Linked DNA regions of Homo sapiens. The protein of the gene in region 1 interacts with the protein of each later gene in a pairwise test. Each region holds a gene or a part of one and is shown in the gene's direction. Other genes may lie near its edges.

Region 1 (4,507 bases):
TCACCAGGTTGGCCAGGCTGGTCTTGAACTCCTGACCTCATGATCTGCTTGCCTCGGCCTCCCAAAGTGCTGGGATTACAGGCATGAGCCACTGCGCCCAGCCCAAAAGACTCTTTCTAAAAACAGTATCAGAATAACATGTTTTCCCTAAAAACCTCTCCACTGAGAAGAATGTATATGTTCAGAAAGAAACACTGGTAACATTTCAGAAATCAATGACAAGATAGGCCAGTGCCCAACAATGGAAAACACAGTGTGTGGGACTATCACAGTGCACAGTCCCCTAGAAACCAAAGAGGAAGAGAAGTACAGAATTTTAAAGCTTGAAAGAGGCCCAAAGACCATGTAATCCAGTTACTTGCAAACCCTTTCTAAGGGCAGATTCTTTTGTTCAAATGAAATCTTACCCGGAAGATTTATATAAAAGCTGAGATGCTCTTATTGAGTCAGGAAGGAACGGGGTGGTCTAGAGCCTAACCCACTCTACTCCACTCCCATCCTCTCACCCGCAAAAGTCCTTGTAAGGGCTCCAGGGAGCCCCTGGGGTTCCTCAAGTCACAGTTTGAAAAAAATCACTATTTCAATCCCACTTCCTCCTTTTGCCACTGGGGAAAAATGAAGCCCAGAGAAGTCCAGGTTACCCAGCCAAGATAGGGGTCTAGGCAGTCACCTATCTTCCTTCAACAATTTTTCCATGATGACACCCCGAATCCTCTCACGAACTGCCTTTTGTTTCTGCAGACTATATGCGTATTTGTATTTGTGTGTTTGTAACCATGCCCGGTGATCCCAAGAAAACATAACAAACCAGTCCTTGCTTTCGCTTTAAAGCTTGGAGTCTGCCATTTGAATACAACATCTCGGCTGCCCAAGATGGCTAGAAGCAGAATGCAAAAAGGCACAGGGTTATAAATACCTGTCTCATAGATGACCTGGGACACTGTGCTTTGCAGCCTAAATTAGGCAGAGTTTCTGTTGTCACGAAGAAGTACTAAAAAGCGGGCAGTTCTCAGCGAGACACCTGAGAGCTGGCATCCACATGAGGAGAGGCCCCATCACTTACATTACACTCATGAAGCCCAGAGATGTTAGCTACATTTTTCTAGGTAGCACAGCTAGGAAATGATGGACACTGAATTTGAATCTAAAGGCAACTAGCTGCAAAACCTGAGGTCTTAACACTGGGCCTATAATGCTCTTCCTTCTCACCACATGGGAAAAACGGAGAAAGACATGATCTTACAAAAGCACTGGGCTCAGCCAGCCTGGGAGAGAGGCAGCGCAGACCGGCACCAGGGTGGAATCTCTGTGTTTCCCCTCCAGCTTGCACAGAGGAAAATTCCTCACCAAACGCACGATCCCCGCACAGCTCCCAGGGACAAGAATTTTCTGCTTGTTTACTGAGTCCCCTGGGCTGGGAGTGGGGGGTTGCAGGGCAGGGGTGAGCTGCGCACAAAAGCAGGATAAAGGTAAACTTTCTGCATATGAGAACCATTTCCCCCCCTCCAAGGAGCCGTGTCACACTGTATGTCACCGTCATCAAAGGGGCTGTGCGTAAACCTGAAAAACCAAACGGACCTGTCTGTAGGTGTCACTTATATCACAAGGCTACAGGTGTCTTTATTTCCACTGCACGCTGGTGCTGGGAGCGCCTGCCTTCTCTTGCCTTGAAAGCCTCCTCTTTGGACCTAGCCACCGCTGCCCTCACGTAAGCGCCTTTTCTTTGCTTTTTTGGATGAATCGTAAGGGGTGTCAGGGCTCAGAGGCTCGGCCTGGGGCCTGGGTCTGCTCGTCCATCTCCAGCTCCAGGGCCGGCACCTGCGCTGGGTGCAGTCCCAGGGCCTCCGGGAGCTGTTTGACACGGATGTGACGGCTTGCCTCAGAGAGACCTGCTTGCCTCCGCAGGCCGTGTGGCCACCAGCCCTCCTCACAGCCACCACTCCCTCTGGATCCCTTAGCTGAACCAAGGGGAATTAAGAGAACGCGCCCAGGCGCTCAGTTCTCTATCCTCCCTAAAGCTTCTTTAGGAAGGGAAGCTGGATTTTACTCAGAAAAATATTCAGCTTCAAGGAAAGCCCCCCACCTACCCTTCTCCCCTGACTGAATTCCTTTCCCCACCGGCCTGCCCACTGTCCCCCACCCCCTCGATACAGAGAACTCCCTTATTATAGTTTGGGGCATTTTCAGGAATTTGTACAAAACAGTTTTAAAAGAAACCCATTTGCCCTCTGACATCTCCCCAGAAGAGAATGCTTCCAGAAAAGCAATGGTTAGCGTTTTTCCACTGTGTTCTCAGGCCTTGTCAGACTCTGCAGTGTGTGGGGTTTCTGTGGGGTTGCCCCCTGCTGACAGCGACAGGTAGCACAAGCTCCCTCCTCAGGCTGAAGCCGGGCCTGCGTGTGGATGCCTTTTGTACGCCCGAAAGTGTGTCAGACATCACTAGGTGCAATCGCTTCATGTTACAGATGAGGAAACTGAGGCCAGAAAGGCTAGATGACTTAGGGAGGCAGCTCTGTGGTTCAGTCTAGTCCAGAGACCCAGGGAAAGGGGTGGTTTGCCCATCCGAGTGAACGCTTGATTCTGTTGTCTTCGTGTTCTCTGCAATACTGTTTTTCATAATCTAAGGTATTCTCGGGCCGGAGTTTTCAGTTTGGTCATCTCCCTTTTTCAGAAGTCACCAGAGTGGCAAATTTTTAGATACATTGTTGATGGCTGATTTTTCCCTCTAAAACAGGATTGAATATATGTATTATGCCCCGTCCTTTGCATATATCGGATTGCATGATTTAAAAAAAAAAAAATCCCCATTTTAGAGATGAGGAAACCGTAGTTCGAAGAGGGGCATGAATATTTATATACCACATCTATATGAAAAAAAGCTTAAGAATTTCAGCAGTCTGGGTAGTAAGAAATGTGCCCCACGTTCGCAGCAGCAGAGGTAGGATTTAACCCCTGATATATGTAATCCAAAACTGGTAAGCTTTGCATCGAAGCCTACAGCAAACTACATGGCATACCTTTTTGGATCTTCGCTGCACCTTCAGAAAAACAGCTACAAACAAACAAACACGCAAACTCCCTAAGCGAGCTAAAGAAAAATGAGGAATCACTTGACAAGAGGTCAGCAAATTGGTTCTCACAGTTGCTAGGGTTCCTCTCAGAAGAACAAACCCTCAAGCACCCAACCCTCAATCTTTCTTTAGCAGTAAGTGTTGAAATACTCCACTGGGTTCTCCTCAGTGGGCCCCTTCTTAGGGAGGTCCAAGGGCTGGGAAATTGACCCTCCCTTGCTCACAAGTCTTGGGACGGAGTGGACATTTGGGTATCACTGAGGCTTTAAGGAAGGAAAACCGATTTTCTTCCCAATGATACCACTCAGAGGGTGGGGTTGAGGAAGCCCAATCTTGGCCACTTTTTTCTATATTTTGCACCCTATGGCCTAGTTCTGCCCAGTGATGATTTGGCCCGTAAACAGCCAATGTGTAGATGCTTAATTGGGCCAATTTTTGGTCACATGCCCAGAGTGAAGTTGATGATCACCACCAGAGTCAGGAAGGAATTTTCCTCCTCTGGCAAACTGGCCAAGGCTGAGTGGTTTGCTCCTTCCCCTCTCTCTGGGAGGCTGAGCAGGGGTGCCGGGTTGCTCAGGCCATGGGAGCCACACCTGTTATTGCTGCCTCTGATTTGTGTGACACTGAGAAGCCCACAGGCCTGTCCCTCCAACTCGGTGGACCCTCTCTGTGTGCATTTGGTGTGTGAGCCAGCTCTGAGAAGGGTTCAGAAGCCACTGGAGGCATCTGGGGACCTCAGCTTCCATGCCATCTCTGCCTCACTCCCACAGGTACCTGCAGCCAACTTTCTCATGTGTGAAGTGAGCCCACCTGATTCCACCACCTTGTGTTAATCATTCTTGAGCTTTTCCTACTTACTAGGCAGCTAGAATGATGACTACATTTGGGGGAAACTGATTCCAGCTTCCACGGATCTATCGGTGGGCAGTGAGTGAGGGTCCAGAGTGTTTAAGGTACCCAGCTAGGCTGGGCAAAGAATATCCAGTTGTCCTGAGGTATCTACCTCCAACTGGGGTAGAAGGCAGTGGGCACAGGAGAAAAGGGAGAAGAGGAAATCAGGGAGCTTTTTCAGCACTAAAAGTTCAGTCTGTGTGTAGTGGTTGGATTTTCCTCCAATTTGGTGGACTTGCTTGACCAAAAAAATGCAAATATAATCAATGTGTATGCATATGTGTGTGAGTGCCCAGGTTTGGATGTGTTGGCTCAATCAGGTGGGTGTCTGCAGAAAGTCACAGAGTTAGGGCAGACCTTGGGGGCTGTTTTATCTGTGTTCTTGTTTAGTAGTTGAAGAACTGAGATTTGGAGAGGGGCAAGAGGCAGAATCATAACTCCAGGCCCAGGGCTCCTTCCATGATGAGCCAGCTAGTCCCTCACAAAATGAAAAGTATGTCCAGAACAGCAGGCCAAGAGACCTCCCAGCAGATCCCTGTCTGTAC
Region 2 (3,814 bases), on another chromosome or scaffold:
AAATACGCAGAGATTCAAAAAGGTAGCATAAAATCATGCCTGTCAAATATATAGTAGATTAAAAAGGAGAAGGTAAACATTTGGGAGTGCATTTCTAACTTTTGAGGTGGGTTTAATGGAGGGGACTACTTATATATTCTCTTGATATTGCCATTAGCAACTGCCTCCCTCTTTATTGGAAATAAAATATTGGCCACGTTGGGAGAGCTCTTTTTTTTTTTTATGGTCTTATAAATTCAACAGGAACTTACTGAGAATGTCTGGGCCTGTCAGATATGTGCCAAGGAGTCTTTTAGGCACTTCAGGGGATAATCCAGTGGGAAAAGAGTGTGGCACTGGAAATGGGTCAAGTGTGTTTGGAGAAAGGCCAGTATGTGTGTGACCTGATGGAAGTGGTAGAAAATAAGGTGAGGTGGGTAGGGAGGGCTCTTTGGGAAATAAAATGTAAATTCTTGCATTAGTCAGTGTTCCTGGGAGTATTTTTGAATTGATGATGGTGTGAATTCCTCCTTTTTTTTTTCTTTTTTGCAATGGAAATCCTCTTCTTTTTAAAAGAGTACAACATTCAAGGGCTGTATATGAGTTTTATGAGGCTTATTGCATCAAGGAATTATATCCACTTAAAAAGGAGGTAGTTTTAGGCCGGGTGTGGTGGCTCACGCCTGTAATCCCAGCACTTTGGGAGGCCGAGGTGGGTGGATCACGAGGTCAGGAGATCGAGACCATCCTGACTAACACTGTGAAACCCCGTCTCTACTAAAAAAAAAATACAAAAAATTAGCTGGGCATGGTGGCATGTGCCTGTAATCCCAGCTACTTGGGAGGCTGAGGCGGGAGAATCGCTTGAACCCAGGAGGCAGAGGTTGCAGTGAGCTGAGATTGTGCCATTGCACTCCAGCCTGGGCGACAGAGTGAGACTCTGTCTCAAAAAAAATATGTAAATAAAAATAAATAAAAAAAGTTTTTTTGACCAGGTATGGTGGCTCATGGCTGTAATCCCAGCACTTTGAGAAGCCAAGGTGGTCAAATTGCTGTATCTCCAGAGTTTGAGACCAGCCTAGGCAACATAGTGAGATCCCTATCTCTATAAAAAGTAAAATTAGCTGGGTGTGGTTGCACATGCCTATAATCCCAGCCACTTGAGAGGCTGAGGTGAGATGATCACTTGAGCCCAGGAGGTTGAGGAAACAGGGGAAACAAAGCAGCTTCTTTGCTGTTCTTTTATTATGAGGTTTAACTGACATTGCCTTTTATTATAAGTTCCAGTGAATAATCAAAGTGATGCTTTGGCTAGCCATGTTTAATTTTTCTTAGATTTCTAGCTGTCTAGTATCAATAGGCATTTTTCCAGAACACACAGTATATGTTATTTGTAGTATATTCAAAACTATCTAAGTTGAAAAAAATAAAGAATTGTACAGAGCTTTAAGAACGTGTTCTGCTGGGTGTGGTGGCTCACGCCTGTAACCCCAGCAGTTTGAGAGGCCAAGGCAGACAGATCACTTGAGGCCAGGAGTTCGAGACCAGCTTGGGCAACATGGCGAAACTCTGTCTCTACAAAAAAATTACAAAAATTAGCCAGGCATGGTGGTGCATGCCTGTAGTCCCAGCTGCTCAGGAGGCTAAGGTGGGAGGTATGACTTGAACCCAGGAAATGAAGATTGCAGTGAGCCTAGATTGAGCCACTGTACTCCTCCAGCCTGGGTGACAGAGCCAGACCCTGTCTCAAAAAAAAAAAGGAAAAAAAAGTCCTGTTTTTCAGTCCTCAGTCTCAGGGTCTGTTTCTTCTCATCTCCTTGGACAGCACATAATAGTAGACTAAAAGTCTTAAAAGAGAACACTCGCTTTAATACTTATGCATTAGAAACAAACTGCAAAATAACTAAATAATAAATTCTGGCTTCTAGTTGGTTACGTTTCTGTTTTGGCTTCCCTACTGTATTTGGAACTCGCTGGCTTTGGTTTTCCTGATTTGACTTTTTATTTAAATCCCCCTGGCTTTTATGCAGGTTTATTGACTGGTGTAGTGGTAGACTCTGGAGATGGTGTGACTCACATTTGCCCAGTATATGAAGGCTTTTCTCTCCCTCATCTTACCAGGAGACTGGATATTGCTGGGAGGGATATAACTAGATATCTTATCAAGGTAAGTGAAAGGAAAATATCATGGAAATTAAATTTTGTAATTTGTTTACCACCTTAACACAGAATTGAATCTATCGTTTTAGGATTCCAGCAAATCTGTACCACTAGAGAAATTATCCAATTACCTCCCTTATTTATATAAAAATTCATATAAGATTTATACACATGAAGAAAAAAGAAGATACATTAAAAACAAGGAAAAAAGTGTACACACATGATCTCTGTATACTAATGAGAGTACATTATATCATTACATAATTATATTTGTTATTCCTGAGGAGTGAGTAGACAGATATTTCAAGGATAGAAGAGACCCCTAATTTGAAACTTTCTTGGACAGCTCAGGCAGCCTTTTCTGCCATAAAACCTTTCTTTGAGCAGGTATGTTTTAAGCCATGATCTTGGTTGGGTTGTCTGCTCTTGTCCTTTCCTACAAAATACAGTGATAGCAAATTAATGATATTTGAGGAAAACAGCCCAAATACGCCAGACTTTAATATTTAGTAGTTTTCATGGAATAGATGCAGTTTTTAATATTTACTATTTTAGTTTATTTCTGAATATAACTAGTTATAATTTTCTTTAAAACATTACTGGAGAAAGTACATAAGGTGTCTACTTGCTAACATATATCATTTTTAATATTAAAATAAAATTTAGAAAATTGTTTATACCACAATTCTATAATCAGTCTATCCTCTCCAGGACAGTGGTTCTCACCAGGGGACAGTGCTGTCCTCTGGGGGATATTAGCAATTTCTGGACACATTTTTGGTTGTCTGAGCTGGGCAGGAATGCTACTGAACATTCTATAATGAATAGGGCTGGCTGCACAACAAACAATGTATAGTCTGTCAGTGGTGCTGCTATTAAGAAACCCTGTCTCTGCATTAAATTGGGTTGCACTGTCTTTACCTTGACATTGGGTTCCTTCAGTCTCATTTAAAGTAATCCTCCTCATGAGGGGAGATTAAATTAATGAGAATTATAATACTCTCATTTTAGGCCAAAATTCAAAGCGTAACTAACAGAATTTCTGGGGTTGTCTTTAGAACACAGACTCAAATATTAGAGGATTTTTTTTTTATTTGTAAAGTCTAGTAATTTTTTTTCTCTCAGTGGGTTTTTAAAAAAATAGTAGTATTTTCTAGCATTTAAGAAATGTAACAATGGAGATTATACCTTTGAGTATCCCAATAATTCCCTTATCATTCGTTAAACAAATGCTATTGTCCTTCTAATATGTGCCAGACACAGTACTAGAAGCTAAAGATAAAACTTTTAAAGACTTGGGGGCATTTCATAAATATGGCATTAATTGTGTGAGCAAACTGCAGGCTACAGGAGTCCAGTACTAAAATAATATTTATTCATTAATATACTTTTGATTGTTTATCAAAACTATCAAAACATTAGTACTCATGCAGTGCTTTTCAAAAACTGACTTTTCTAGTCATTTTACTGACTTACTTATGAATTGTTAATTCTTTTACCCTCTCTGAAACTGAAATATAAATCCTTTTATGGCGGATAAAATCCTGCTTCTGAAATAGTAGGAGCTGAGGATCCACTGCCCATTCTGTTTGTTATTGATGTGACATATTTAATGAGCATTACTAGCTTTTGCAGAGTAGAACTCATTCAGATGTATTATGAACTTATTGCTATT

Evidence for each region.
Region 2: the proteins of ELF5 (region 1) and ACTR2 interact in a two-hybrid assay, tested with the Homo sapiens proteins (one large-scale study listed by BioGRID and IntAct).

The regions. Positions count from the first base shown.
Region 1 is NC_000011.10:34,510,878-34,515,384, reverse strand, and holds the start of ELF5 (ETS-related transcription factor Elf-5), read left to right. Parts: upstream 1-1,590; 5' UTR 1,591-1,708; intron 1,709-3,660; exon of another isoform or gene 3,661-3,815; coding exon of another isoform or gene 3,816-3,841; intron 3,842-4,507. UniProt on the Homo sapiens protein: Transcriptionally activator that may play a role in regulating the later stages of keratinocytes terminal differentiation. Isoform 2 binds to DNA sequences containing the consensus nucleotide core sequence GGA[AT].
Region 2 is NC_000002.12:65,251,719-65,255,532, forward strand, and holds part of ACTR2 (actin-related protein 2), read left to right. Parts: intron 1-2,009; coding exon 2,010-2,146; intron 2,147-3,814. UniProt on the Homo sapiens protein: ATP-binding component of the Arp2/3 complex, a multiprotein complex that mediates actin polymerization upon stimulation by nucleation-promoting factor (NPF).